5 separate regions of the Homo sapiens genome follow, and all the other regions are linked to region 1. The links come from fine-mapping of genetic effects on gene expression. A gene starts in region 1. Each other region holds a variant in brackets. All regions are shown on one strand. Distances are between the middles of the regions. Region 1 holds the start of INTS10 (integrator complex subunit 10). Region 2 holds the start of LOC124901901 (a long non-coding RNA gene). Region 3 has its middle 27 kb from the start of INTS10. Region 4 has its middle 36 kb from the start of LPL. Region 5 overlaps INTS10 (integrator complex subunit 10).

The links. PIP is the estimated chance that this variant, and not a neighbour inherited with it, causes the effect.
Region 2: its variant is the best candidate, but not a certain one, in a credible set for the expression of INTS10 in cerebral cortex (GTEx, PIP 0.77).
Region 3: its variant is the best candidate, but not a certain one, in a credible set for the expression of INTS10 in prefrontal cortex (BrainSeq, PIP 0.89).
Region 4: its variant is the best candidate, but not a certain one, in a credible set for the expression of INTS10 in monocytes (Quach 2016, PIP 0.70).
Region 5: its variant is the best candidate, but not a certain one, in a credible set for the expression of INTS10 in whole blood (INTERVAL, PIP 0.77).

The regions. Positions count from the first base shown.
Region 1 is chr8:19,812,961-19,819,621 of GRCh38, forward strand. It overlaps INTS10 (integrator complex subunit 10), which reads left to right and starts at 4,456. Exons shown (of 17, transcript NM_018142.4): 1 at 4,456-4,706; 2 at 5,315-5,382; 3 at 6,613-6,661. The coding sequence starts at 4,578. RefSeq lists enhancers at 1-148, 4,327-4,406, 4,447-4,506, 5,007-5,096, 5,307-5,396 and silencers at 4,037-4,176, 4,697-4,826.
Region 2 is chr8:19,851,167-19,857,827 of GRCh38, forward strand. INTS10 (integrator complex subunit 10) reads left to right here. Exons shown (of 17, transcript NM_018142.4): 17 at 483-901. The coding sequence ends at 639. LOC124901901 (a long non-coding RNA gene) reads left to right here and starts at 2,731. Exons shown (of 2, transcript XR_007060843.1): 1 at 2,731-3,947; 2 at 6,090-6,538. RefSeq lists an enhancer at 5,148-5,647. The variant T/C (reference allele first, on the strand shown) is at 1,711.
Region 3 is chr8:19,786,587-19,793,247 of GRCh38, forward strand. No RefSeq gene overlaps it. Among named protein-coding and RNA genes, the nearest start is that of INTS10, 27 kb to the right of the region's middle. RefSeq lists a silencer at 2,279-2,479. The variant G/A (reference allele first, on the strand shown) is at 2,900.
Region 4 is chr8:19,972,244-19,978,904 of GRCh38, forward strand. No RefSeq gene overlaps it. Among named protein-coding and RNA genes, the nearest start is that of LPL, 36 kb to the left of the region's middle. RefSeq lists a silencer at 3,602-3,802. The variant T/A (reference allele first, on the strand shown) is at 3,438.
Region 5 is chr8:19,840,434-19,844,433 of GRCh38, forward strand. INTS10 (integrator complex subunit 10) reads left to right here. Exons shown (of 17, transcript NM_018142.4): 14 at 2,415-2,494; 15 at 3,643-3,805. Among named protein-coding and RNA genes, the nearest start is that of INTS10, 25 kb to the left of the region's middle. RefSeq lists an enhancer at 3,496-3,595. The variant T/G (reference allele first, on the strand shown) is at 2,300.

The DNA.
Region 1 (6,661 bases):
CTGAGCAGGGCATACAATGTCTACTATAATCAATGGGAAACAGCAGTAATCCAACACAAACACATACTCTACTGGAAGGTACCAGGAGAAATAGACAGAAACTACAGAGTGGGGATAACTGATAACAGATTCCCTAAGGAAGCCAAGGGTATGGGATTAGAAGCACAGGTGAGGATTTTGGCCTTGAACAAAAGGGACTCTTTATCCCTTGAAACTAGACAGAATGAAATTTGTATAAAATTAGAGGCTTTATGTACATTTGTAGGGAAGGGCCAAGACATTTAAAATTCACCTAAATTTTATTGCTAGCCTACTATCAATAAGTGTCAGGCATGTTTTAGGGGCTGGGAAAGCCACAGCATAAAAGACAGGTCAGGTCCATGTCCTGATGGAGCTTACTGTCTGGTAAACCATCAGTTATGAAACAGCGTAAGGACTGGGGGAACGGGGAGGTAGGGGCAGAATAGGTTTCCCTGAGAAGTGTTATCTGAAATTCAATTAGCCCAACGAGACCAGCAGGGGGCAGTGTTCTAGGCAGGACAGAGGTGATATTAGCGAATAGTACACATGAATGTGTGGAAACGACAAAGAACATACTACATTGAAGAACTGAAAGCATTTCTGGGTGGAGGCTCCTAGCAAATGATGGGGCAGAGAGCTAGCTGCAAACCCCATGGAAGCACAATTATAAACCATCAAAGGGTTTTTAAGAATACATATACAGGCCAGGCGTGTTAGCTCATGCCTGTAATCCCAGCACTTCGGGAGGCTGAGGTGAGCGCATCACTTGAGGTCAGCAGTTCCAGAGCAGCCTGTCCATCATGGTGAAACTCTGTCTCTACTAAAATTCAAAAATTAGCCCGGTGTGTTGGCGCAAGGCTGTAGTCCCAGATACTCGGGAGGTTGAGCCAGAAGAATCACTTGAGCCTGGGAGGCAGAGGTTGCAGTGAGCTGAGGTCATGCCACTGCACTCCAGCCTGGGTGACAGAGCGAGACTCCCTCTCAAAAAAAAAAAAAAAAAAAAAAAAAAAAGAATACTTATCTGGGCCCATTGTGCTGGCTCATACCTGTAATCCCATCACTTTGGGAGGCCTATGCAGGAGGATTGCTTGAGCTTAGGAGTTCAAGACCAACCTAGGCAATATTATCAGACCCTATTGCTACAAAAAATTAAAAAATTAGCCAAGTGTGGTGGCACACGCCTGTAGTCCCAGCTACTTGGGAGGCTAAGCTGGGAGGATTGCTTGGGCCTGGAAGTTGAAGCTGCAGTGAGCCATGATCGTGCCACTGCACTCCAGCCTGAGTGACAGAGAAAGACACTGTTTAAAAACAACACAACGCAAAACAAAACAAAAACACATATATGACCAGATGTACAGTCTTGAAAGATAAATAGGGCTGTGGTATTCAAACTTGGAGTTTAAGGGCCGGGTGCGGTGGGTCATACCCGTAATGCCAGCAGTTTGGGATGCTGAGGAGGGTGGATGGCTTGAGGCCAGGAGTTTGAGACCAGCCTGGCCAACATGGCGAAAACTTGTCTGTACTAAAAACACAATAATTAGCCGTGTGTGGTGGCTTGTGCCTGTAATCTCAGCTACTCGGTAGGCTGAGGCACAAGAATGACTTGAACCGAGGATGAGGAGGTTGCAGTAAGCTGAGATTGCGCCACAGCACTCCAGCCTGGACGAGAGAGCAAGACTCTGTCTCAAAAAAAAAAAAAAAAATAGTGGATACAGTGGCAGGATAAGAAGGCAAAGACATGAACATATTGAATGTCTGAGCACAGGGTTTAGCATGAGTGGGAGAGGAATAAGCCCAAAGGGTGGCAGATGCACTTAGGGGAAAATGTAGGTGTCAAGGGGATAGAGGCCCATGAAGGTAAAATCAGGGAGAAGGGAAAGGAGGAAATTATTAAAAAGAACCAAGGAGAGAGTTGAGGGCAGGGAAGTTAAGAGGTTATGTGAGGAAACTTGGAGTTTGAAGATTTTGAAGTGGAAGGGGAAAAGCAATGTAGAGTTTAATTCAGATCACTGAACTGAGCTCACGGAAATTGAAGCCGGGTGCTGGATGCAGGGCATTTTATGTGACTTAGAAGTTGTCAAGGGCCGGCGTGGTGGTTCACACCTGTAATCCCAGCACTTTGGAAGGCCGAGGTGGGTGGATCACGAGGTCAGCAGTTCAAGACCAGCGTGATCAACATGGTGAAACCCCGTCTCTACTGAAAATACAAAAAAAAAATTAGCTGGGCATGGTGGCTGGCGCCTGTAATCTCAGCGACTTGGGATGCTGAGGCAGTAGAATCACTCGAAACCGGAAGGCAGAGGTTGCAGTGAGCTGAGATTGTGCCACTGCACTCTAGCCTGGACAATAAGAGCAAAACTCGTCTTTAAAAAAAAAAAAAAAAAAGTTGTCATGGAGAAGAACATGAGCTAGGCGCCTCAAGTCTCCAGTGAGTCAAGATCATGGCAAGGAGGCCAAAAGATGTAAACTCACTTGGTGTGTTACCTCCCTTCTGTACTTTGAGATGCCAGCATAACACTGTAGGAGAAATGTTTAGCTGGGGACCATTCAAAATCAAGAAGCTGACTAGAAAATAACCACAAACCTTACGTTGTATTCTGGCAAAAAGTCTAGAGGCCCTCTCAAGGTTGGCATCTAAAATACATACAGAGGCTGGGCGCAATGGCTCATGCCTGTAATCCGAGCACTTTGGGAGGCTGAAGCAGGAGGATCACTTGAGCCCAGGAGTTCAAGAACTGCCTGAGCAACATAGGGAGACTGTGTCTCTACAAAAAAATTTAAAATTAGCCAGATGTGGTGGCACACACCTGTAGTCCCAGCTACTCCACAGGCTGAGACAGGAGGATGGCTTGAGCCTGGGAGGTCAAGGCTGCAGTGATCCATGATCGAGCTGCTGCACTCACTGGCAGTCTGGATTTCAGAGCAAGACTGTGTCTCAAAAACAAACAAACAAACAAAAACAGAATTTCCTTATTTAGCCTCTAAATTTAAAATCTTAATTTACAATTGTTATTCCACAGAACACTAGGCTCAGGAACAAGTGTGGAGTTGTTTTTTTATTTTTGGTAAAGACCAAAACCAGAAAGTTTAATGACCAAATCAGTCATTTTTACCATTTGAAAATTCTTACACTTCATATATTAACATCAATGAAATAATTTTAACAATTCAAGCTAGCAATCTGCTTTTATGCTGTACACTTTATAACATAAAAATTATCCTACTCCGTTTAAATCCAATTTTCTACCATCTTCTATTCTACAAACCCAAAATAACTGTATCACTGAGTAATCCTGGCCCATAAAGTAATCATACAGTTATGCTGTTCTGTGCATAAGTAGGAGATATTAAACAGTGCTTCGAAGCCCAGCACGGTGGCTCATGCCTGTAATTTCAGCACTTTTGGGAGGCGAAGGAGGGCGGATCACCTGGGGTCGGGAGTTCCAGACCAGCCTGGCCAACATGGTGAAACCCCGTCTCTACTAAAAATACAAAAATTGGCCGGGCTAGCGCGTCGTGGTGGACGCCTGTAATCCCAGCCACTCGAGAGGCTGAGGCAAGAGAATCTCTTAGATGGAGAATCTCCTAGATGTTTTTCATCTCTTAGATGGAAAACAAATCTGGAGTTTTGGTGAAAAGGACATTGATTGTGGCTGGAGGAGATAATTATAATAATAGCGTAGTTATCTTTCTGTGGGTTTCACGTCCAGAACATTTAAAACATATAAAACCCTTGCTGGGTCAGGGTTTTAGTCATCTTTGCAGCTCCCACGGACGGCATCCACCAAAGCGCTTTCCAAGTACTTCGTTGCTCAATAAACGTTTGTTGGAGAAACCGGTGCATAAAGGTGAAATAATAAAACGTGGACGGATTTCGGAAAGAGAAGGAACCCCGGAGCTCACGCTTTGCACGATCACCCCCACCAGCCCCAGGAGTTTTCGCGTAAATCGAAGCCCGGGGAGTGAGTCGCAGGCAGCGGCCCCCGGGGAAGGTGTTTCAGGCCGGCCCGGGTGGAGAGTGCTTCCCGCCGCCTCCCCGACCCTCTGCTGTTCCTCTCAAACTTCTTCTCAACCTTCCACGCCGGGGGGACGCCCAGGGACCGCCCATTCCCCGGGACCGCCCGTCTCCCCGCCCCCGCCTCCGCCCCCGCCCCCGACAAACTGAGCAATACCCAGAGAGGATGGAAATGGCGAAGAGGCCTGGCGCCTGCCCGCTCCCGCGCATGCTCCCTGACTTCACCAAGGTCACGCTGCAGCCCGCAGGAATGAAAATCCACTTCTCCGCATTTTCGAGGTGACCTGGAAGCGGTTCAACTGCTCTGGCTTCTCAGAAGAGGAGGGGACCGGGCGGTAACGAGGAGCCAAGGGGAGGAGACTGCTCGCAAAACCCGGAAAAGCTTTCCCGATCCACTCTGCCAGCCTCCGTGCGCCTCCAGACATGCGCAGTAGCCTCCCCCGCGGTGGCGGCGGCGGCGGCGGTGGCTGCCGTGGCGGCTGAGAGTCCAGAGCCGGACGTTCCGGCCGCTTCGGGCTGGCGGCTGGAGAGCGCTCGGGTCATGTCTGCCCAGGGGGACTGCGAGTTCCTGGTGCAGCGAGCCCGGGAGTTGGTGCCGCAAGACCTGTGGGCAGCCAAGGCGTGGCTGATCACGGCCCGCAGCCTCTACCCGGCAGACTTTAACATCCAGGTGAGGTCCCGGCTGTGCATGCGGCCGCTCTGCGTGGAGGTGCGCGCTCCCGTCGCCCGGGCTGCCCTGGCCCAGAGCTGCGCCTGCCTGGGGGCTGCCGCCTCCTGCCCGGCCCCCTGCTTTCTCCCCTCCCACCCCCTCCTCTCTCCCCTCCCATCCTACACCTTGCTCCTACACCTTTCACCCGCCTTGCTCCTACACCTTCCAGGAGCCCTCTCCCCAGCACTTGAGAGACGGCCGATCCCGCTTGAGGTCGGGTGTGCTTAGGTCCCTGGGGCTCAGCGTGCCATCTGGCCTAGACAGCACATGATCGCCACTAGCAAAAGGCCATTCGCTCCTTCATTCATCATAATGGCAGCAGTTTGTTCAGGGCCTGCGACTTTGGAAATATTATCCTACTTAATCCTGGGAGCCTGAGATTGCAGGTGAACCCCAGGGTCACACTCTAAGCCCAATGGCAAGTCTGCCATGTATGTGGCGCTGTGTCACCAGGCGGAGCTTCACTCTCAGGCCCTCCCTTCCTGCAGGAGGGCCAACGAGCGATGCTGGATGAGCTGGGAGCCTTCTGGGCAGGGGTGAGTGACCAGGGTGCCTGATGTGTGTTGCAGTATGAGATGTACACCATCGAGCGGAATGCAGAGCGGACCGCCACCGCCGGGAGGCTGCTGTACGACATGTGAGTGGGACGCTTGACATCACTTTTACTGCACTGAATCTCTCCATGAGGTTTTGTTTCTCTCTGCAGAAGTGGGAGTTGGGGGAAGATCTTCAAGTTCATCTATATCTTCGATACCTAAAGCAAACCTAGTAAGGAGTCCAGGCCTGCCATAAATTGCTGACATGGCTTTTGCAGAAGAGTTTAATTATTATTCTTATGTTTTATCCTTGTTAAAACTTCTGTTTCATAATTTATTCTAGAAATAATATGTGCTCATTACAAAAATTCAAACACTACTTGTTATAGAGAACAAAAAGTGAAAGTGCATCCTAAACTGAACCAGAGTTAAGTTTTGTAGGCAGTATATCTATACATGTATGCATAATACATAAATAAGGTTTTGGGGGGAAGGGGTTACAAAAGTGAGAAGACCATACTACCTTTGCCCTGCAGCATGTTTCCTTTACTCACTCTCATGGACCCCTTCCCATATCAGTATGTAGAGATCCACTTCATTCCTTTTCATGCCTGTGTAGTATTTCGTAGACACTCTCTTCTTGGTAGACATTTAAATAGATAGTTTTAAATTATTTGAAATTATATTCAGTGTGTCAACAATTTTGTAGTCATATTTTGGTGTTTTTCTGTGGAATAGATTCTAAGACATTTTCATAGTCAAAGTTTATGCGCATTTGAAAATTTGATACGCTATGAAATTACTCTCCAAAATGTGCGATCCCAGTCTACATTACCACCAATGGTGTATAAAGAGTGTGTTTTCCCATACCCTTCCCAACACTGGATATTATTAGTCTCTTTTTAGTTCTTGTCACTGTGATAGGAGAAAATGGTATCTTGCTATTTTAAAAAAAAATTTGTACTACTCATACTGTTAATAAGATTCAGTATTGTTTCAACTGTTCTCTTTGGCTGTGTGTATTCTGTGATTTGCCTTTGCCTATTTTTTCTTTCAAATAGTTTGTTTTATTCTTGTTGACTTTTAGAAGCTCTTTCTATGTTATGGTTACTTGTCTTTTCACCTATAAAACCCACTAAAGACTTATGTGAGTACTCTCATTTTTATAAATCAAGTAATTCTTATTTTTACATTTTTATTTTGGTTTGTTTTGGCACGTCTAAGCATTCACTTGGAATAAAGGAAACTTTTTCACCAAATGCTAACGTTTTTTCTTTTGGATACTGTATAGACTTTGACATTTTAATTTAATGTATTTATTTTAAAAATAGGTTTGTGAATTTCCCAGACCAGCCGGTGGTGTGGAGAGAAATCAGCATT
Region 2 (6,661 bases), 38 kb after region 1:
GGAGCACCAGCTGCGGGGGCCATGGTGGGAGCTCACTTGGGTGATTGGCTCATTCAGGTCTCCTCCCTCCTTGCTGCTGCCTCTGGAGGGTCTGCTGGCCGGGCTGGACATGAGCTCTTTGTAGCCAGTGTGGACTGGACCCATTTGGCCCTAAGTAACTGAATTGTGTACCAGTCAGCAGTAGGGATGCATAACACCAGAGCTTCATTGATTCAAAGGCAAAGCAGGTGGCATTTTACTGAACAATTAAATGTTTGAAGTAACCTTTTATAGAGTGAGAAAGATGTCTGTCTAGTTTTAAGTCTTTCTGAAGAGAAATGGGCTGGAATGTTTGGTTGGTTGCAGCTATTCTTGTGTTCTTTTTAAAATATCTGAAATTATACTTAGATATGGGGCAGGCTTTATTCCTACCCAAGTAGCAGCGATCAGCGATGCTGGTGCTAACCCCTGGTCTTTGTCTGTTTCCCTATTGCTGACCTCAGGCACCACACTGTAACTCGAGGCATCACCAAAGGCGTGAAGGAGGACTTTCGCCTGGCCATGGAGCGCCAGGTCTCCCGCTGTGGAGAGAATCTGATGGTGGTTCTGCACAGGTTCTGCATTAATGAGAAGATCTTGCTCCTTCAGACTCTGACCTGAGTGGAGACCTTTCCACCAGACACAGCTCGGGCCTGTGTAATTGTAGGAGAAGACACTCAGCAGTGATTGCCATGGCACAGAGCCGTGGTCATTGTTGCTGTTACAAAGAAGAAAACCATCTGAGTTCTAACTCCTTGGTTGCTTAAAAGTAGTTCCCAAGAGTCTGAGAAGCTATTTCTATTTTTAAGAGTCATTTTTTGTAATTTTTGTAAAACAAAAGTACCAATCTGTTTTGTAAATAAAAATCATCCTAAAATTTGAAGTTTTTAAAAATTTAATTCTTATGAGTTTTTGAACAGGGGTGCATTTTTCTTCTTTTCTAAGCATATAGCAAGGGGGAAAATCCAGCATAATTGAATTGAGTAATGAATTTTACTAATATAGATACTTACTTAAAAGACATATGTCTTCCATGACCTTAAGATTTTATTTTCCATAGTTAGGCTTTGGTCGGTATTGCATATCAACATAATATTAGACGTTTTCATTCAGGTGATCTCTTTTTTAGAAACAAGGTCTCACTCTACACCCAGGTTAGAGTGCAGTGGCACGATCATAACTCACTGCAGCCTCAAACTCCTGGCCTCAAGCAATCCTCCTGCCTCCAACCTCCCAAGTAGCTGGGACTACAAGTATACACCACCATGCTCAGCTATTTTTTTTTAATTTTATGTAGAGACAGGGTCTCACTATGTTACTCAGGTGGGTCTCAAACATCTGGCCTCCAGCAATCCCACCTCAGCCTCCCAAAGTGTTGGTATAACAGGCATGAGCCACCATACCTGGCCTCATTCGGGAAGTTTTAACACCAAAAACATTTATGTAAAAATGAATTTGAGCCTGACCTCTCCCACTGATGGTCCCCTGAAGGAGAGGTGCTCAGGGCTGCTGAAAAGCCCAGGACAGGAAGTGGAGGTGAGAGGCAAGGTGTGGCAGAGCAGCCTCCCCATTGCTGTCTGGCTCCAGGAAGTCCCTGCTGCTGTGCCAGGGTGGCCCAGTGGTTTCTACCCAGGGGCTTTGGAGCCAGGTGGCCTTGTGTGGCTTTGCATCCTGGCTTTGCCCTGCCCTTAC[T/C]TGCTATGTGACCGTGGACAAGGTAACTTCTGTGTGCCTCAAGCTCTTTGTCTGAAAACGGAGCTGAGTGGTCCTCCCCTTGCTGGTTATTGGGAGGATGAAATGTTGCTCCACGTGAAATGCTTGGGAGAGGGCCTTGAGTGTAGTTAGTGCTGGCCAACATTAGCTATTAGGCTAATTTTTTTTTTTAATTAGGCTAATTTTATTTTCCTTTTGCTCTTCATGAAATTATACAGAAGACAAACATCAATAAAATTTGTTTCAAGGGAGTATTTAAGAATGAAAGAGCTAAGAAGTTTTGCAGTTACTCTGCATAAAAGGTCTTAGAAATCTTTTCTAAATAAAGATCCTTTTTATAGCTATATTAAAATCAATAAGATGGTTTAAATAAGAGACATCTGATCTCAAAAATATCAACTAGCTTGTTTTGCAGTGTTTATTAGTGTAATATGAGTTTATTACAAATATATAAGCTATCCTTTTTTTAGTGATGGGATGTGCTGCCACCTAAAAGCTCCCAAATTAAACACTCTCACCTTTAGGTTTTCTAACACTATTAGGGTTCTTCAGAGGGACCGAACTATTGGATAGATGTATATATGAAAGGGAGTTTGTTAAGGAGAATTAGCTGACATGATCAGAAGGTGAAGCTCCACAGCAGGCCGTCTGCGAGCCAAGGAAGAAGGAAGCCCACAGTGGCTCAGTCCAAGTCCAAAAGCCTCAAAAGCAGGGAGGCCAACAGTGCATCCTTCAGTCTGTGGCCAAAGGCCCGAGAGCCCATGACCAACCACTGGTGTAAGTCCAAGAGTCCAAAGGCCAAAGAACCTGGAGTCTGATGTCCAAAGGCAGGAAGCATCCAGCACGGGAGAAAGATGAAAGCCAGAAGACTCAGCAAGTCAGCTTATCCCACCTTCCGCCTACTTTGTTCTACCCTCGCTGGTGTCTACCCAGCTTGAGGGTGGGTCTTTCTCTCCCGATCCATTGACTCAAATGTTAATCTCCTCTGGCAAAAGCCTCACAGACACACCCAGAAACAATACCAGCTATCTAGGCATCCTTCAATGCAATCAAGTTGACACCTAATATTAACCATCACGAACAGCTTCCTCAGCTCAGTGTTTCAGGAGCAGTGCACATCACAACAAGACTTTCTAATACCCCAAAATGTAGGTACTAGCTAAAAGAGGATTAACCATCTTTTTTAAAATTCAGTGGTGCCACTTCTCTGTGAAGAGGCTGCAGGGAAAGGGCCACAGAATAAAATGGAAACTCAGACTGAATTTGCAGAAAAAGAAGGAGCTGGGAGAAAACTGCAGACCTCTCAGCACATAATGGCTCCATCCAAATCGCTGCACTAAGAGACCTGACCAAACTCTAGCTTGGCTACCAGCAGCTTAAGGCCATGACCCCAGTCCCGCTTAAAATGCCTGCCTGAGAAAGCTCCATGCTACCAAAATTTATTCCAGACCAAACCAGGTGATAGGCAGATAGGCCCCTGGACTCTCGCTTAGAATAGTTACTTTAAAAAGGTTGCAATTACACATCCTTTGCCCTTTGAGATGCAAAGTGACCCCCCAGAGCTGTTTTCTCAAGAACCCAAGAGCTGGCTTTTTGAAATCCATTCAGGGAATCAACTCTTGCTCCCAGTCCCTGTGACAGGGAACATTTGAGCTGGGTTTGGACCACTGTAACATTTAGACTCCTACAGGAGATGTACTGTTGCCATGGCAATCCTGCTCCCTAACAAAGGAACTGCAGGCTCAGGCTTTTGGTGTCTGCTTGTCTGAGTAACGAATGAGGCAAAGCTACCATCGGGATGACCTTAAGGCAGGCAGAAGATACAGCGGTGCATAGGAGGCTTGACTGACCTTGGATATCTCGTCCCAGACATTCCCCTCACCTGGCAGCGGGGTGCACCCTGCGTGCACAGCATCCTCCTCCTACGCTTAGGTCCATCTGGATGTAGAGTCCCTCCTGGGAAAAGGGGAACTGCCAGAAAGAGACACCTGCCCCTCACTCGTCACCAAATGCAGGTTCCTGGGGAAAATGATGCTAGTAAGACCTGCCTCTGGGTTTCCTAAGCAGCAGAACAGCTCCCTCGCTGCAATCCATTGAAAGTCAGTCCTGGACACCAGGGTTTGTCCACCCATATGGAGGCTCCAAGCATCTATGCATCCATCCCTCTCGATCCCTAGGACTTCGGACCCGGAGCCACACTGTGGGGCGGCAGTGATCAGGTACCCTCCTGGCAACCCGACTCAATGCCCCGCCTCCTCGCCACCCTGCCAGGATGCACCCTGGGCTGGGACAAAGTTGGGGAGCGGTGGGGATAGCAGAGATGGATGGGTAGCCCCCTGCATCCTCAGGGTTGACCAGCAGTCTGCCAGGCTCGGTCTCTCTTCTGCAGTCCATCAACCTCCAAAGACTCACATCGATAGGCCCCTGCCTGCCTTAGGCCAGGGGTCCCCATTAGACTGTAGCCAAGGGACAGCCCATTGAGACAGTGGACTAGCTCAAGGCCTCGAGCTGCTGGGTCGAGACCAGTTGTCCGGCTGCCACCTTAGACGAGAGGCTAGGGCCAACCTAGAGAGGGGCCCACGGGGACCCAGACTGGCAGCGGGGGTAAAACAGAGAATCATTCCTCAGGTGGGGTGGGGCCCAAGGTTTATGGGAAAAATGTTATTGTTATTAGAAATATTTATCTGTAAATATGAAATCACAGAAATTGTAATACAGTCTTCTATAACATTAAATATAAATTGTAGGGGTTATAAATGATAAATCCATGTGAAAAACAAATAAACGTGAACAGTTATTTTTATTTTTTTAGAGACAGGGTCTTGCTCTGTCACCCAGAGTAACAGTCACCCTGGAGTGCAGTGCCGCGACCATGGCTCATGGCAGCCTCCTGGGCTTAAGCGATCCTCCTGCCTCAGCTTCTGAGTAGCTGGGACCACTGGCACATGCCATTATGCCCGACTGATTTTAAAATGTTTTATAGAGACAGGGTTTCACCATGTTGCCCAGGCTGGTCTCCAACTCCTGGATTCAAGAGAACTGGCCACCTCTACCTCTTAAAGTGCTAGGATTATAGGTGTGGGCCACTATGCCAGGCCTGAAGTTATTTTTGTCACTGTCACTCATCATGATTGTAACTATCGCTGTTATGATTATTCGTTGTCGTAGCTAGAGCAATAAACACGCTGAGTACAGCTCTCTGTCCACAAAAGGGTTCCACCAATGGGAGGCAACGGAGGAAGTGTTCAGGGCTCAGAATGTCCAATCTTGCAGGGCACCACTGTCCCCCACCCATAGCTGGCCCTGGCCCAGGGCCCTCTGGAAAAAAAAAAAAGTCAAGGCCTCCTGGACTGTGGGGGTCGGCCCCCTCCAACCCATTCCAACCAGGGAGCTCCAAGGTGGAGGCCAGGCACACGCTGGGCACTCTCCGCCAGCCTTGGGCCAAGAAATGTGACCCAACGTGAGTGGAGCCAAGGCCGGGTATCCTCACCACCTGTGATGGCTTCTGTGGACACAGACTTTCGCATCCCTTGCCAGGAACAAGCTGGTGGCTGCTTTTATGTAATCCATGAAGGTCACCCAGATGGCCAGACCTGAGCCTGGTGAAATGGGGGTGGGAATGGGCCGGGGTTGGTGCGAAAGGGCAGCTAGAGGGTTAAAAACTGAGACTGAGTCCTCAGCTGGAAGGTGCAGGATGCAGAGTCAGGTGTGAGAGTGACTCACGAGGTTTATAGTAATGAGAATATTTTTGTTATTTATAAACAATTGTAATTAATACATATATAATTATATAAGTACTATAAATATATAACTTTATTATACATAAACTATATATAAAATACAAAATATTTATCTATAAATTATATAATACATAAATATGTTATATAAATTTTGTTTTTGTTTTTGGGAGAGTCTTGCTCTGTCACCCAAGCTGGAGTTCAGTGGCATAGTCTCGGCTCACTACAACCTCTGCCTCCTGGGTTCAAGTGATTCCCCTGTCTCAGCCTCTCAAGTAGCTGGGACCACAGGCACATGCTACCACACCCAGCTAATGTTGGTATTTTTAGTGGAGGCGGGATTTTGCCATGTTGGCCAGGCTGGTATCAAACTCCTGACCTCAAGTGATCTGCCCGCCTCAGCCTCCTAAAGGGCTAGGAATACAGGTGTGAGCCACTGTGCCCCGCCCTGTATGTCATATAAATTCTGAAATGTAAATTAAAGTATAGATTATAAGAATTTTATAAATATTAATAAGTATATAAAAGTAATTATTGTCATTGCTATTTATCGTTACTGTAATTATTACTATGATTACCAATAGGAGTTGTTATAGAAATACTGAATAAAGTTTCTCTGTCTAGGAAAGGTATTCAGTTGACCAGAGATGATAAAGAGGGTTTCCAGGCCAATGAATTGTCTCAATTCACTGGTGAGCACAGGAAGGCCGTGAGCAGCCACCAGCCTGGAGAGCCTATCCACATCTCCACAGTGATCTGCTCCAAATGCTCAGGACTGAATCCAGACCCTCCCTCATTTTTGACACCCACTTCCAAGTTAGGGTCAACAGGGGAAGCCAAATACACTGACCCTCATGGATCATGTGGAACGCACCTCTTCTTGTCAGTCTGCTTCCAGCCATTCCCAGATCAGCCCGCTCCCAGCAGGATGCACCCTCCTCTTTTCCTACCATAAAGCTTTCCTACTCCTCTGCCTGCCTTTGAGTCTCTGCCAAGCACAAGCTGTTGTGGTGGCTGCCTCTTACAATAGAGAGCGAGCTCTCGATTAATAAATGTTGTTCTCATGTGGGTGATCTTTATCTCCACAAAGGTTATGACACAGGAGCCTTTTGGTGCCTCTGTGTCAGCCAGAAACCTCTGTGACTGGCAATGCAGGGATCTTGCTCAGCTCTGGGTTCACCACCTGGCTTCCTCCA
Region 3 (6,661 bases), 26 kb before region 1:
AAAAAGAACGGATAGGGTTTAATTCCTTATCTTAGAGAAAGGTCTGGAGATGTAGATATACATACCCCTCCACTCCTGGATTAAGGAGATGCAGTAAAAGAGAGAAAGTTCTGTTTTTTATCTGCATTTTGTATTGTTTTAATTTTAAAATAAGTGTGTATTACTTTTGGGATTTAAAAAAGACATACATTTTTAGGATAAAATGCAGCATCATAACAGAGAAAAAAATTCATTAAAACAGGAAATAGTACTAGTAAACATGGATAAATAACTAAACTCAGTCATAATCAAAGAGAAACTAACGAAATACATGTTGTCATTTTGCTTCTATCAAATTAGAAGAATAGGAAACACAGTCGCTAATGCTGTTATGTAATGATGACGACAGGATCAATCAGTATCCCTTTGGTAAGGCAATTTAGCAATACATTCAAGAGCTCCAAAACAATTCATAGCCTTGACCCAATCATTTCATTTCTGATAAATCCATTTTAAGAAGTAATTTATTCTAAGGAATAATATATTAAAAACGTATAATAATAATAATAATATAAATTCATTTCTGATAAATCGATTTTAGAAGTAATTTATTCTAAGTAATTTATTCTAAGGAATAATAATATAAAAAGAGCTCCACATGAAAAGGTAGAAATAATAAATGTCCAACAACATGGAAATGATTATATATGAATCATACATGCATTCAGTGAAATATTAGACAACCAATAAAAGCATGCTTAAAAAGCTATCTGATAATGTAATATAAAAATATATTATTTCCAATAATATATAAATCACAGAAAAATTTTAAACAAAAATTAGACTTCTAATTGTCTATACAGTACAACAATAACTATATACTTTTACAAAATACCTATATAGACTGGGCGCGGTGGCTCATGCCTGTAATCCCAGCACTTTCGGAGGCCGAGGCGGGTGGATCGCCTGAGGTCCGGAGTTCGAGACCAGCCTGACCAACATGGAGAAACCCCATCTCTACTAAAAATACAAAATTAGCCAGGCGTGGTGGCACATGCCTGTAATCCCAGCTCCTTGGGAGGCTGAGGCAGGAGAATGGCTTGAACCCAGGAAGCGGAGGTTGCTGTGAGCCGAGATCACGCCATTGCACTCCAGCCTGGGCAACAAGAGTGAAACTCTGTCTCAAAAAAAAAAAAATGCCTATATTCAAAAGGAAAGAATGGATCACAAATTAATATGCCAAATGTTACCCCAAAATGGTTGTGTTTACAGGCATGTAAGCTTTTACTACAGGGCTGACACATAGGAAGTATTAATAAGAGCAGCTATTATTTTTGCTTTGTTATTATGAATGGCAATACATATTTATTTTTTATTTAATGATCTGGTATGACTTTAAAATAAAAACTAATCCTCTTGAAAGAATTAGAAACTAAATTTGAATGGGGGTGACTTCTGGGTATTGCAATTACGGGTAATTTGTACTTTCTTGCTTGTCTTTTTCTGAATTTTATACAAGAAACATATATTCCTTATATAAATGTTAAGGGGGGGTTATTTACTTATGTATTTATTATGATTATTATGAGATGGAGTTTCGCTCTTGTCGCCCAGGCTGGAGTGCGATGGTGCAATCTCGGCTCACTGCAACCTCCGCCTCCCAGGTTCAAGAGATTCTCCTGCCTCAGCCTCCTAAGGAGCTGGGATTACAGGAGCCCACCACCACACCTAGCTAATTGTTTTTATTTTTAGTAGAGACAGGGTTTCACCATGTTGTCCAGGCTCGTCTCAAACTCCTGACCTCATGTGATCTACCCGCCTTGGCCTCCCAAAGTGCTGGGATAACAGGCATGAGCCACAATGCCCTGCCAGGGGTTCTTAAATGTTTAACTTTTAACATCTGTATTTAACACATGGTTCTTACTGATCTGAACACATTACTGCTCTGAAGTTCACTCAGAGTCAATTTATTGAAATCATATTCACTACAATATGTTCATATCTATCAAGATAAGTGACCTGGAAAGCAGGACTTACACTTTTTACTCTTTATACCTCTGTAAAGTTTTACTTTCTTATACTGAACATGTATAAATGTATTATCTATATAATTTTTTAAATAATTTAAAGGAAAACTTGGAGAAAAACAAACTGTTTTGTCCTCAGACTATAATCAGGGCACTTAATACTGTTGTGACAAAAGTAATACAGTAACTATCAACTAGTAATCTCAAACTAGTTATTTCAAACAGATACGTTGCTTTTACGAAGGAGATGACTGTATTTGGAAGGTAGTTCAGAAAAAGAGAAAAAAGCCAACCAGCCAGTTATTTCTCCATTTTGTTGTCTTGGTAACTAAGGCAGCTGCGTGAGCTGTTTTCTATTATTTTCCAATCCTGTTCCAGAAAGAAAATTTTTAAATAGGAAAGCAGATATACCGAGAATGTAATTAATCTCCCTGAAAACGGACCATTACAAATAATGTTACTGGACACAAGGATAAAAAAGAACCCAAACAAAAGTACTAGAAAAATATAAACCTAATGCTAAAGGGTGTTACACATTTGGTTCCCTTTACAGAGTTAATAGGAAACGATTTTTCAATAGGCTCAAAATTTCTACAGCTGGAATCTAAAAGGCCCAGGCAAGTGTGGCTTACTCAGAAACCAGTCAGAGTGGAGAAACGCTTCGTCGGGCCAAAATCACTAATACAAAGAAATAAAACTTCCCTGGTGAAAGCTCCAAAGAGCAAAGAGCATGACTTCATGGAATAAATCGTTCTAAATGGAGTCTGTTTTCAACAGCCACATGTAAAGTGAAATTGATTCTACCATAAGTAACTCAAGAAAACAAAGATTTGGAGCAACAGGAACTATATTACAGAGCTATATTAGTATAACATATCACAAAGCTTTTGCAT[G/A]TATGTAACTTTCTAAAACAGGTTGCTTACAATCAACCACATACATCCCACCAATATCTGCAGAGTAGAAATGTAAAGAGCTATAGTTGGGTTGGTATTTGCTCTTAGTTGGGTTGGTATTTGCCTAGATTCAAGTCAGCTCTACTTGACACAAGTGAAAATGTTAATAAATTGTATTAAATTTGAGAGCATAAAAAAGAACAAGAATCCTGTTTTCTATATTTTTCTCTCTTACTCTACACATTGCCCAGCACAGATGAATGATTTATCTTTTAGTGAATCAATAAACCAGCTGGGAAAATGTCAGAGATATCAGTTAGTGATAGAAAAAGATACACCCTCAGATTCAAGCAATTAACACAATAAGTAAGCAGCATTATTTTCTGGGTGGGCCAGCTTCCAAAAACCATTTTTCAAGTTAAAAGAAAAACTCAAGTAATCCTAAAAACCATACTATTTGAGTTACTCTCTACACAGGACAGAAAAAAAAATGAGTTTAATTATAGACCCTGTTTTTCATATTCAAAAATAAAGTTTTTAGTTATTTTAGTTATTACAAAAACAGACTGTGACACAAAAATTAGCCGGGCGTGGTGACGCATGCCTGTAATCCCAGCTACTCGGGAGGCTGGGGCAGGAGGATCCCTTCAACCAGGGACGTGGAGGTTGCAGTTAGCCAAGATTGCACCACTGCACTCCAGCCTGGGCAACAGAGAGAGACTCTAAAAAAAAAAAAAAAAATTGTGCTCATTGAACACCCCTCTTAAGGAGAAGGTGGGGGAGGACGACAAAGAGAAGAAAAGAAAATTAAGTCCAGCAAAAAGAGGAAAGAAAGTAAACCCAAGACCTAGTCTCCCAGCGACAGTCACTGTGGATAATCTTAGCATAGGCATGTCCAGATTTTTCTCTTTGCTTGTACAGATTTTCCCCCAAATATGTGAGTATGACTTTTTTTTTCACTTAAAAATGTAGATGGTGTCTTCCTTTCTGCCTTTATTTTCCTCTTTTCCTTCTTCTTTTTCTTCCTGAAAAACTGAGTCCAAGATCATTAAATCATTAAGTGGAACCAAGTGAGGGGGGCACCCTGTGGCTGAGTGTGAGGGTAGGGTAGGGAGGGCAGGCTGTGGCAGCCCAGCATGGGGTACATCAGAGACAGCAGGGGGAGGAGTAGAAGAGGAGTGGAGAGTGACATTGGCAGCCTCGTGCAAAGTGTCAGAATTCAAGTGGGGCCAGGCACGGTGGCTCATGTCTATAATTCCAGCACCCTGGGAGGCAGAAGTGGGAGAATTGCTTTAGCCCAGGAGTTCGAGATAAGCTTGGGCAATATAGTGAGACCTCTGCCTCTACAAAAAATTAAAAATTAAAAAAATTATCCAGGCGTGGTGGCACACACCCGTAGCCCCAACCACTTCGGAGGGTGAAGTAGGAGGATCACTTGAGCCTGGAAGGCAGAGGTTGCAGTGAGCTGAGATCTGAGATGGTGCCACTGTACTACAGCCTGGGCAACAGGGTGAGACCCTGCCTCAAAAAAAAAAAGAAAGAAACTAACTAAAAAATTAGAAAAATTAAAAAAATAATCCAACTGAGTGAGGAGGACACCACCATGAGGGGCAGCCTGCTGCGTGGCGGCTCCCAAACAGGAATTTAAAGACTAAGCAGGATGAGAAGAGCATCTGTGAGGGGGTGGGCACTGGTGGTGATGGTGAGGCAGGAGAATAGGGTCTGGGGGCAGGGAACCTACGGCTGATTCACACTGACTTCCTATAACTAAACCAAAAGGAAAACCCTAACTTTCCATGCCCAAGTAACAAAAGGACCGGAGGCTACTCCGTTTGCAAACCACCCCTTTTCTCTGTGGCAGATGAAAATTTCAAAGTATCTCTGATTGGTCCCCTCCCACAACCAATCGGGCTGGTCACAGGCCAAACCTTCATTTGCATAGAAGTATAACTTTGTAACTGTACTTCAGCCTCTGGTCGGTCACTTTCTGCAACCAATCGGACATTTGCATAGCGTGTAACTTTGTGACTTCACTTCAGCCTCTGATTGGTCCCCCTACAACCAATCAGACTGATCAAGGGCCACTACTTCATTTACATTGGGTGTACACCACGTAACCAATGGAAAATCTCTAGAGGGTATTTAAACCCCAGAAAATTCTGTAACCAGGCTCTTAAGCCGCTTGCTCAGCCCACTTTTACCCTGCGGAGTGTAGTTTTGTTTTCAATAAATCTGTTTTTGTTGCTTCATTCTTTCCTTGCTTTGTTTGTGTGTTTTGTTAAAGACACCAAGAACCTGGACACCCTCCACCAGTAACAATGGGAGCTAATCTACATACATATGGGGGATTCAACTAATAATATATTGAGAACCAGGTGGTTTCTCACTGTTAGAGAAGGAAGGTATTAATATGGGAAAAAAGAAGACAGGTGTGAAAGTTGTGATTGTAGGTAGAAACTAGAGAGATCAGTGTGAATTCATGGATGTACATGTATATTACACATTCTACACCAAGGAACCAGGGCTCCTTGAGAAATAGCTAATACTAGGGCTAGAGCAAGGAAAGGACATTATATTTGTTTATTGAGGCTACCGTAACAAATTATCACAAGCTTCATGGTTTAAAATAACAGAAATGTTTTCTCTACAGTTCTACAGTCCAGAAGTCCAAAATCAGTGTGTCAGCAGGGCTGAGCTCCCTCTGGAGGCTCTAGGGGAGAATCCTTCCTTGTTTTTTCCAGGCTGGAGAACCCTAATGCAGATATCAATGTTAATTTCTTGATATTTATAGTTGTATGTTGATTAGGTAGGAGAATGACCTACACCTAACCACAGTACACAAGTATTCAGGGCCATCGGGACATCATGTTGGCAACTTCGTTTAAAATGGTTAAGGAAAAGAAATCTTTACTGTTTTTGCAATGTTTTTATAAGTTTATTTCAAAATAAAGGGTTTTTTTTAATTCAACAATGATTTTGGAAGAAAAAAAGCATATGGTGCCCAGGCATGGTGGTTCACATCTGTAATCCCAACAATTTGGGAGGCCACGGTGGGTGGACCTCTTGAGCCCAAAAGTTCCAGACCAGCTTGGGCAACATGAAGAAACCCCATCTCTACAAAATAATACAATAAATTAGCAGAGCGTGGTGGCACACACTTGTAGTCCCAGTTACTCAGGAGGCTGAGGGGGACGCTCACCTGAGACTGGGAAGTCGAGGCTGCAGTGAGCTGTGATTGCACCTCTGCACTTCAGCCTGGGAAATGTAGGGAAACCCTTGTCTGTAAATAAATACGTCATTTAAAAGCATATTGTAAACACTTTTCACATCAGCAGTTACATTCATGTAACATCATTTCAAATGTTTTTACACACTTGTATAGATCATCACTTATTTAACCAAATCTTCTATTGTTAGACATTTACATTGTTTCCAACTTTGCATTATTTCAAACAGCAGTTTATTGAACATTATTATAGTACCATAGCTGAGTATATTCTTAATTATTTTCTTCACATAAATTTCTAGAAGTGCAAATGCGGCATCAAAAGGCATTCATTTGACACTCTGTATACACGTATTTCCAAACTACCTTTTGAAATGCTAAATTCCCTTGCCACCAACAAACTTAGACTCTGCTTTAAGTAGAATGACAGGCCACTGCTCACCCAGAATTCACAGCTCCTTAAATGCCCTAGCCAAGCACTCAAATTGCCCAGACTCCAGTCCCAACTTCTCATTCCCACCTTAAATGCTTCTCCT
Region 4 (6,661 bases), 160 kb after region 1:
TAATGAATCAGGTGAACTTTCTAGAGTAGATCGTAGCATCCCATTCCTCTACCCAGTACTTCAACTCTCTGTATTTTTCATCCTGCCTAACAACAAAAAAACTATAAATTATTGTTTGCATATGCATGTGTGTGTTTGTACGCATACTGTTGTTATTCACCCTGTTTTACATTTAGCCCATTTCTAGCTAATTTTTGTATATGGTACTATCTGTGGTTAGAGGTGTTTTTTGTTTTTGTTGTGGTAGTTGTGGCAATAATTTCTTTTTTACATAGTCAAATTATTCCAGCAATTTGTTGAAAAAAATATCCTCTCTCCATCGAATTACATTGGCAACTCTGTTCTCTGGTCCTCACAGATCAGTTCCTCATGATGACTGATTTTTCAGGAAATGTGGGCTTTGAACAGACTTCACTCAGAAAGCCTGTGCTAGAGTTCCAGCATAGGGACCTCATTCCTTTATCAGGGCTCAGATCCTTCATCCTCTTGTAACAGGCTCTGGACCTACAATGGAAATCTGCTGACATGAGATTAAGAGAAGGTATCTGGAATGAAGGCACTTCTCCGACTCCACCCATTCCGCTGACAGGGCTCCAACAACTCCAGGGTCTTTTAATCAAGAGATTGCTAAGTCAAAGACAATGCCTCCTCAGCCAAATGTGAAACACAAAGGTTTCATAATCAAAATGAAATTCCTTCTTAGCACACAACTGGAGAAAGCTCTAAAGGAGATAAGAATCAATAATAAGATTTATAAAATTTGGCAGCATAAGCTGAGGATGATGATATTTCCCTTAATCTTTATGTTTCCAGATGGCACTGGTGTGGCAGCAGAAATCACATCATGGATGAGACGCTAAGAATTGGCACAAGATCTGCACCTTAGATCCAAAGACTATGTGATCCAGGCCCTCAAATACATCTTTTCTAATCCTCATAATAATTCTATGAGGTTGGCACCATTGCCCCATTACAAATGGGGAGAGGTTATGTGCAAAGTCCAAGCTCACATCACCACAATGGGATAGCCTGAGGATGCAATCCCAACACCATTTCCTGAGTCATGCTGTGCTAGGCCAAAATTTGGATTCCTAAAGTCCCTTAATGGTGATCAAATGGTCCAAGTTGCAAGTTAAGGAGAGTAGGTCGGTAAAGACAATAAATCACTGTACTCCCCAGACTTCTCCAACTAATCCCAGTTATTCTTCATGCATTTAACATAAAGCTCTTCGCCGGACAACCTGGCCTCTTACTCTTTCCCTAAACAAAGTTTTTTTCTGTAGTCTCTATATTTTTGCTCAAATGTCCCTCTCTGCCTATAATGACCACCCTATTTTCTAAGTACCTTTAATGACTACTTTCACTCTTCTGAGCTCCCTTCTGAAATCTTTTTTTCTTCCATTGCTATGTTACCACTACGATCTACCTGTCAGCACAAGTGTTGCATGTACTTGCTCCGATGTTGTGTTACTAAAAATAATTACTACCAGTTTTTCTGCATCAACTATGTGCCAGGCACTGTGTGAAGTGCTTGGTTAACATTTGTTTCATTCTCACAATAGCCTCCTGAAATAGGTATTTTTATCTTCTCTTTATTGATGAATATAACGAGATGCAGGGAAATGAATTAATTTAGAAATCAAAGCTAGTAAGTGGGTGAGTTGGCTTTTAAACCAATGTGTGACTTCAAAGTTGGAGTTGTTGATTTTTCCCCCCTTTGAGTTTTAAGCCTGTTTGAACATATCTGGGGCACTTGGAGATGGTGCACCAGAAATACATTGGCAGAAAAAATTTTTCCCAAGAGAAAAGAGAAGCAAAACACATAAAAGTGACTCAAGGATGGAGGCCCAAGACAGAGAGGAGAGGCAACTTTGACTTCCACCATGTGTCTGTTTCTATTGTCTGGCAGCCCAGCCTATGGGAGTTGCCTGAGGTTTAGGGAGAAGCAACTATGATAATCTGTGAATTGCTAGATTTGGCATCCATGGTGTGGGGCATGGTGGTCCAACATTTTCCCAGCAAGCTTCTAATGTGCTGGGGTCTATGGTGGCTTTTGTGAGCTGCACTGACTTCAGTGCGGACTCCACAGGTCAGGGAACCTTGACACCCCCTGTGCTTCGGCAACTCGTTTGTGGTGGGTTGTGACAAGTGATATTAGTAACAGCCGGATGGAAAAAGGAAGGAAAATGTAAGGTCAATGCAAATTTTTATCAAGTACCTACGATGTGCGGGCAATTTTGCAAGGTGCTAGTGTCATGCAGCCTGTGGCATATTTGAGCAGACTTATGGGAGTATATAGAAAAGCTAGGAGTGGGCCGGGCGCGGTGGCTCACGCCTGTAATCCCAGCACTTTGGGAGGCCGAGACGGGCGGATCACGAGGTCAGGAGATCGAGACCATCCTGGCTAACACGGTGAAACCCCGTCTCTACTAAAAATACAAAAATTAGCCGGGCATGGTGGCGCGCGCCTGTAGTCCCAGCTACACGGGAGGCTGAGGCAGGAGAATGGCGTGAACCCGGGAGGCGGAGCTTGCAGTGAGTCGAGATCGCGCCACTGCACTCCAGCCTGGGCGACAGAGCGAAACTCCGTCTCAAAAAAAAAAAAAAAAAAAAAAAAAAAAAAAAGCTAGGAGTGACAAAGGTCTTCATACACTTGTCTTTTTGTAATTCATCTGCCCAGAGTGGGCAAATTTTGGTAATTCATGCACAGGCACTATACTGTACATGCTAACCCTGACTTTACTCACTGCTCTGTTTCTCACCCAAGTTTGTTATGAATGATTTAAAGATGCTGAAGATACCTGGATATAAAGAAGGGGGACGAAGAAGCTAGAAAAATGCTGTTGCAATATTATTTTGGCCCTACATTTCCCCCAGCATTCTGTTGCCCAGAAATTGATTTGCATCACTGTTTGTCTTGCCTTCTCAGTTCCTTTGGCAATAACGATTATATTATCCATCTACTTTTCTTTTAAAAATTCAAAGTATAAAAATAAGTGTATTTAATAATTTGTTGAACAAATGCATACATAAATGAATAAAGACTGTCATGAATAAGTACTTTTAAACTCCAACAAGCAGCATAAATGAATGAAACTTCTCATTTTTCTCTCCATGTCTCCACTTCTGTAGGTTTCTACAAGCAGAGGGTGTAATCAAAATTGACCAGTACACTCATTCTTCCTGGGAACAGAACATGTAGGATGCTCTAAAAATACCTTCTTTGATTCATTAAACTGAGTTTCTCAAGGATGTAACGAAAAGGAACACAATTTGTTCTAGAAAGAGATTTTCCTATATGTCCTAAGAAGGAGAAAACAACCAGGAGACAAAAAGGAACTGAGATATTGACCAAAATAGATCATTAGGAAAGAGCGGGTGATTTTGAGTCAGGTTTTTTTAAAAAAAGCAACAGAAAACAGAAGTTAGAAAGAAGG[T/A]AGGAAGATACTCATGTCTTGATATGCTATCATTTTAATAACTTAATATTGATTTTAAAGTAAAAACCAACCTTATTTTTCCATTGTATGGGCCAAAATCATGTGAGTTTGTGTCACACATTGAGGGCAATGACAGTGCTAGTTAAATAAAGAGCTCGTTGATGTGCCTGAGTAACACTGTGAACTCAGCATTTTGATAACGATGTAAGGGCTAGAAAATTAGGCTTTTAGATGTCCCCAGGTCAGAGGTGAGCCTGGGTTGTTAAATGAGGCCGTAAGATTCCTCTGCCGCCACATGTGATTTGACTAAGATGACAATGATAAGTGTCCCTTCAGAGGTATGGAGCCTTCTGAGACCAGGTCACTCATTATTTCAAGGTGACCTCAAGTCCAAGGGCACATTTTAACTTCATGTACAACAAACAGCATCACGCTGCTCCTTGATGTTTACTGGTTCATTAAAGGGTAGGATGTAGGGTGTGAGGAAGTGAGGGTGGTACATTTTATTCACACCAGTAAAAGAAGAAATGCTCAAGTTATATTGTATAATTTCTATGAAAAAAAGTAACAGAAATCAGCACACCATTTTTAGAAGGCTCACCACGTGTGAATATCTTTCCAAAAAGTGATTTGTCAAAATAATTGACGTAACTATAGTGTTTCTCACATTTTCTCCTAAGTCACATGCCTAAAAGCTCAGCAGAAAAATTAATGGAAGAAAATGTAACCCATTTAAGATAAGCTGAAATATAAGCAAAGTCAAAAGATAACAAATTGATCCCCCCAAAATTGATATATAAAAAGTAAAAAGTAAGTTTTGGCTGAACGCGGTAGCTCACGCCTGTAATCCCAGCACTTTGGGAGGCCGAGGCGGGCAGATCACCTGAAGTCGAGAGTTCGAGACCAGCCTGACCAATGTGAAGAAACCCCATCTCTACTAAAAATACAAAATTAGCTGGGCGTGGTGGTGAATGCCTGTAATCCTAGCTACTCGGGAGGCTGAGGGAAGAGAATCCCTTGAACCCAGGAGGCGGAGGTTGTGGTGAGTCAAGATCACGCCATTGCACTCCAGCCTACGCAACAGGAGCAAAAACTCTGTCTCAAAAAATAGTAATTGTGAGTTTCTAAAAATCAATAAAATCACACACACACACACACACACACACACAAAGGAAAAAAGAGCAAAAGATGGAACACAAATCTAAACATAAAGTGGTCCTTAAACATATGAAAGGTAGTCATTGTCATGCATAATAAGAGATAGAATTTAATAATACATGAAAATGCCACTTTTTACCAATTTAGATTCAGAAAATCTCAAAGTTTAAAAATACACCTTGTTTGCAACTCTAAAGGAAAATAAGTCTTACATTGCAGATAGTAATGTATATTGGTGCAATCCTTGTAGAAGACAATTGGTAATACCTTTCAAAATTATAAATACATATCCTTTTCTAATGGTTCTGCTCTTGGGAATTTACCTTGAAGATACACATCTGCAAAAGGATATTACCATAGTCTCAGTCATTACAATTTTGCTTGTAATAGCAAATTAGTGAACAACACATATATGTCAGTTATGATTATTTTGCAACCATAAAAAATGAAGATAAAGATGGATTTGTCAAAATTTGATATTTATTCATGATAAAAAAAACTCTCAGAAAATTAGGAATAGAAGGATATGTCCTCAACCTGATGAAGGCCATCCACAAAAAACCTACATATAAAACTATATTTAATGGTAAAAGATTAAATTATTTTCCTAAGATCAGGAAAAAAGCTAAGATAGTTGCCTTACCAGACCTATTCAATACTATACTGGAGGTTCCATTCGGTGCAACAAGACAAGATAAAAAAATAAAAGGCATCCATATTGGAAAGGAAGAGGTATAACTGTCTTTGTTTCCATACATGATCATCTATGTAAACAATCTGATGAAATAAATAAAAATGATCTACAAAGTTGCCCATGGGATGTAATGAACAATTGATAGCCTTTTCAACAAATGGTGCTAGAATAACTGGATATCTCTATGTAAAAACAAACAAAAACAACAACAAAACCCAACCACCTCTATTTATAGCTTGCACCATATATACAAAATTACTAGAGCTGAGCCTAAATATAAAACCTAAAACTATAAAACCTCTAAAAGAAAACAGAAGAAAATCTTTGTGACATTGGGTTAATCATAGCCTTCTTGAGATATCAAAGGCACAAACCATAAAAGAAAATACTGATAACAAAGACTTAATCAAAATTTAAAACATTTGCTCTTCCAAAGATAGTGTTAAGAAGATAAAAGGTCAAGTCAGACTGAGTAAAATATTTGCAAAAAAAAAAAAAAATCTGATCAAGGTCTTATATTCAAAACTATTAAAGAACCCTTAAAACTCAATATTAAACAACCCAATCCTTAAAAGATTTCAAAATTTAAACTAAAATTAAAATGGACAAGTAAGCATACAAATAGATTGCAAATAATAGAAAAACACATATCATGCAAACAAATACCACAAGAAAGCTGATGTATTATTCTAATATCAGACAAAATAGACTTTAAAGCAAAAGAAAATGTTACTGGAGACAAAGAGAAACATTTTCTAATAAGATTGTCAATCTGCCACGAAAATATAATAATTATAAATTTATATGCAACTAATAACAAAGCACCAAATACATGAAGCAAAAATGGACAGAAATGAAAACAATTCAACAATAATTGTAAGAGATCTCAATATCGCATTTTGAACAATGTATGGAAAAACTAGACAAGACAGCAACAAGGTAACAGAAGCCGTGAAGAATAAACCAAGTATATCTAACAGATATCTATAGTACACTTCACCCAGTAACAACACAATACACAATTTTCTCGAGTTCACATGGACCATTGTCCAGGGTAGGTCATATGCTAGACTATAAAATGCTTCATAAATTTAAAGGATAGAAATAATATAAAATATGTTCTCCAACCACAATGGAATACAATTAAAAATCAATAGCAGCAAAAAATTAGGGAAACTCATAAATATGAAGAAATTAAACAGCATATTCCTAAATAACCAATGGATCAAAGAAGAAATCAAAAGGGAAATCAGAAAATAATTTGAGATGAATGAAAATGAAGACACAACATACTCAAATTTATGAGATGCAGCTAAAGCAATTCTTCAAGGAAAATTCCTAGTTGTAAATTCCTATATTAAGTAAGAAGAAA
Region 5 (4,000 bases), 26 kb after region 1:
CACAAAGTGATTCTAAAATGTAAGTGGAAATATTACATAATCTAGAATAGTCAAAACAGGTTTTAAAAAGACACAATTAAGTGACTTATACTACATAATAACAAGACTTAATATACAAGCATAATAATCAAGACAGAGTTGACAAAATATCGACATAAGAATGGAGAATCCAGAAATAGACCTGCATAGATTTGATCAAATGATTTTCGATGAAGGCATCAAAGTAATTCAATAAGGAAAGGAAAGACTTTTCAACCAATGGTGCTGGAGCAGATTACGTTGTATATGTTTGAAGTTTTCTATAACAAATGGTCAAAAAAAAAAATCTAGCCCAGACTTCTTCAAAAATTAAGTATTTCTGCAGAACAGAAAGTTTCTGGTTGAAACTCATGACCCTGTAGATGAAGACTCACAGCTTGAGAAACACTAATCTAAGGTGTACAACTAGGAGGCAAGGCATATAATTAGGTAATGACATGTTCAACTTGGTAATGCTAAGTTAGTTTCCAGAGTGGCTGCATGACTTTATATACCTTCCAGAAACTGATTAGGTGGATAGGACTGACCTAGCTGACTTCAAGACTTATTTTAAAGCTTTAGTAATTTAAGACAGGGTAGTATTGGCACAGGGGTTGACCAGTGGAACAGCATAGAAAACTGAGAAATAGATGACATTAAAATTCAGTGGGGGAAGAATGAATTTATTCAATAAGTGGTACTAGAACAATTTATTATCCAAATGTAAAAAACGACAATAAAAAAATGAGATCCCCTCCTTCACACTACATAGACATCCTTTAAATTTTAAGGTTGAAATGTGACAGCAAAAACTCCAAAACTTCCAAACTTTTAGAAGAAAATTTAAAAATAGAAAGATTAGTAAATTTGATCACATTAAAATTAAAATACCAACAAAGGCTGTTACAATCAAAGTGAAAAGATAAGGCATAGGCTGCCAGAAAATTGTCTATCACACAAAATCAACAAAAACTTAGTATCTAGAGTTTTGAAAGAGCTCCTTCAGACCAATAGGAAGCAATTATCCAATCCCCATAGAAAAATAGGCAAAGGACAGGAAGAACAGATTCACAGGAGCAGAAATCCAAATGGCCAAAAACTATTTGGAAAGATTCTCAACCTTTTGTCATATGGGCAATTCAGAATAAAACAATAAACTACCATTTCACACACATCAGAATGCAAAAATTGAAGAGGATGTGAAGGAACACAGTGCCACGTGCTTCTGGAAGGTGTATAAAGTCATGCAACCATTCTGGAAACCAACTTCCCATGACCAAGTTGAACATGTCATTACCTAATTATTAAATGTACCTCGCGTCCTAGTTGTATACCTTAGATGAGTGTTTTTCAAGCTGTGAGTTTTCATTTACAGGGTCATGAGTTTCAACCAGAAATTTTCTTTTTTAATGAGATAGAATTCAATAATATTTTAAGACGACATCTCAGACAAGAAGAGAGACTGTTATTCCATGCACCTTTTGTTTTGGATCTATCACATTATGTAAGTATGTGTGTACAGGATCCCATGTGAAAAATATTTATTTCTTGCTATCTTGCCTCTGAGTAGAGAAAGATAACAGACATAAAGAACACAGACCAGAAAGGAAAGATTGGGATTTTGCTTTGAAAGCTATTGCTTAAAGTTATTTCCACAAATGTACAAGAATATGTAAGAATGTATATTTATCATTGTAATAGTGAAAAATTGGAAATGTCAATATCCTCTGTAAAAGGAATGCAGACAACAGAATACTATATAACACTGAAAATGAATGAACTAGAGCTATGTGTATTGATATTGACCAGTTGATAAATCTGAACCACATGAAGTTGAGTAAAAAAAGCAATTTGCAGAAGGATACATACAAAATGACACCATTTATATAGTAGACTGAAAGCATGCAGAACAATCCATTGTTGTTTACGTGTGTAACAGTCATAGGAATGACAACCACTGCCTTCAGAATTATGGCGACCTCTGCGATGGAAGAGAATGGGATCAGAGAAGGATACACAATAGGCTTTAACTGATTTTGTGATTATTGATATTAGAAATGTTTAAAATTAAGATATTAACATTTCATGAAGCTGAGTGGTGAGCACACCAGTGTTATATTCTCTCTATATAACTTTGTGTATATTTGAAATGTTTTCTCATAAAAAGTATTTAAGCAAGTTTAGGAAAGAATATTGATAAATGAAATCTAGAGACCATCAAAAGCCAATTTCACCATCACAAAGTATAATTGTGTTTCAAATATAATTGAAATTGTGTGAC[T/G]GTTGCATATTCTCTTTTTTGTTGTTGTTAATGAAAGCATCTTAAACAGTTGCCTTTCAAAGCTGTTATCTTTGATAATAACATACATTAACCTAACATTGTGGACTTCTGTTAGGTTCGGATCTGAAGCTCCTGCCTTGTACCAGCAAGGCTATCATGCCATACTGCCTCCATTTAATGTTAGCCTGTTTTAAGGTAAGCTTAAAGTTGATTAGCTTGAAAAAAAATGTAATTTCAAATATTATTCTCATGACTCGAGAACTTGAGAACCTTGCTAAGGATTGTTATTTTAGTACTTTTGAGGGCAGGCCCAAACAGTTAGAAAAGCACATGGGCTACTAATTAACAAATCTATATTAAATAATGACTGCGCTAGGCAAAGAGAAGTAGGAAGTTCTCCCCGTCCTCAAAAAGTGTAATAGTGGGACAGATATGCAAATAACCTTGACTGTTGTAGTGTTTGGTAAATATTTTATCAATATAAATATATTAGCTACAAAGAAAGGGAATACAAATTGCGGTTAGGTTCATGGAGGGATGATGAGTTTGTCATTGTAAAGATGTGCTAGATTAAGCATGTTAGGTGTTGAGATCAACACCAGTAACAGCCCAACAGTTGGGAAAGTTCCGGGACTTGAAAGAACGCCAAGGCCCTTGGCTACAGGTAGAGCAGAGCCTTAGAGCAGGGAGGCTTCATTGTTTCTGGAAGGTTTGTTGGCCAGAGAGTAAAACATTGGGTCTCCACTTCAGTGCAGTAACTCCCACTTAACTCATCATCCATATCACTTTTTTAGGGCAACAAAAACAATTTAAAGTGTGATTTTATGCATAACCGCTCATTTGAAACAAAAACTGTTTTGACCATTTCTTTAGTTCACACTTCTGCTTATTTCCTTGTGGCTCACCACCTTTCCTTCTCTGCAATCCCATGTTCTCTACAAACAGTTCTCTCCTGGATGGCCTCTTGCCCACCTACTCCCATCTGCTCCCTTTCAAAGAAATCTTCAGATTTATTTCTCCATTACACAGGATGAATCAGAGTTCTCTGCCCCTGATTCTCATATGCAAAAGCTTCAGGCCCACCCATGTCCAACTGCCATCTACACACTGCCAGCAGCTGTGCAGAGGGAGCCTGAGGCTTCTTTGGTTAGAATCCACCCTCCTTAGAAGGCAGCTGTGATGTTTACCAGCCATTTCGTTGTGCCTTTGTTTCCTTCTTACTCTAATGACGTTTATCACACATTTGCATATACAGCATATTTTTGGAAAGTGATGTTTGCTGTATTTCAGATTACCCTGTGACTTCCTTTTCCTTCTGTCTTGTATAAATCTTTGTCTTGCAGCTTAGAGCTTTCACAGACAACAGAGACGACATGGCATTGGGGCATGTGATTGTGTTGCTTCAGCAAGAGTGGCCACGGGGCGAGAATCTTTTCCTGAAAGCTGTCAATAAAATTTGCCAACAAGGAAATTTCCAATATGAGAATTTTTTCAATTACGTTACAAGTATCCTTTTTTCTTGTTTAAGCATAACACATTCTGATTTTCTTTAGAATGAATACATGATAGAAAAAGAATGAACCATTCTGGATAGAAATAATGATTTTTACTATTTTGCAGCGAAGAGAAGGAATGGGGATTAAAACTGGGGCTGTGGCAGTTGATCTTCTGAAAGTCGTGAAAGACATGATTCAAGGAATT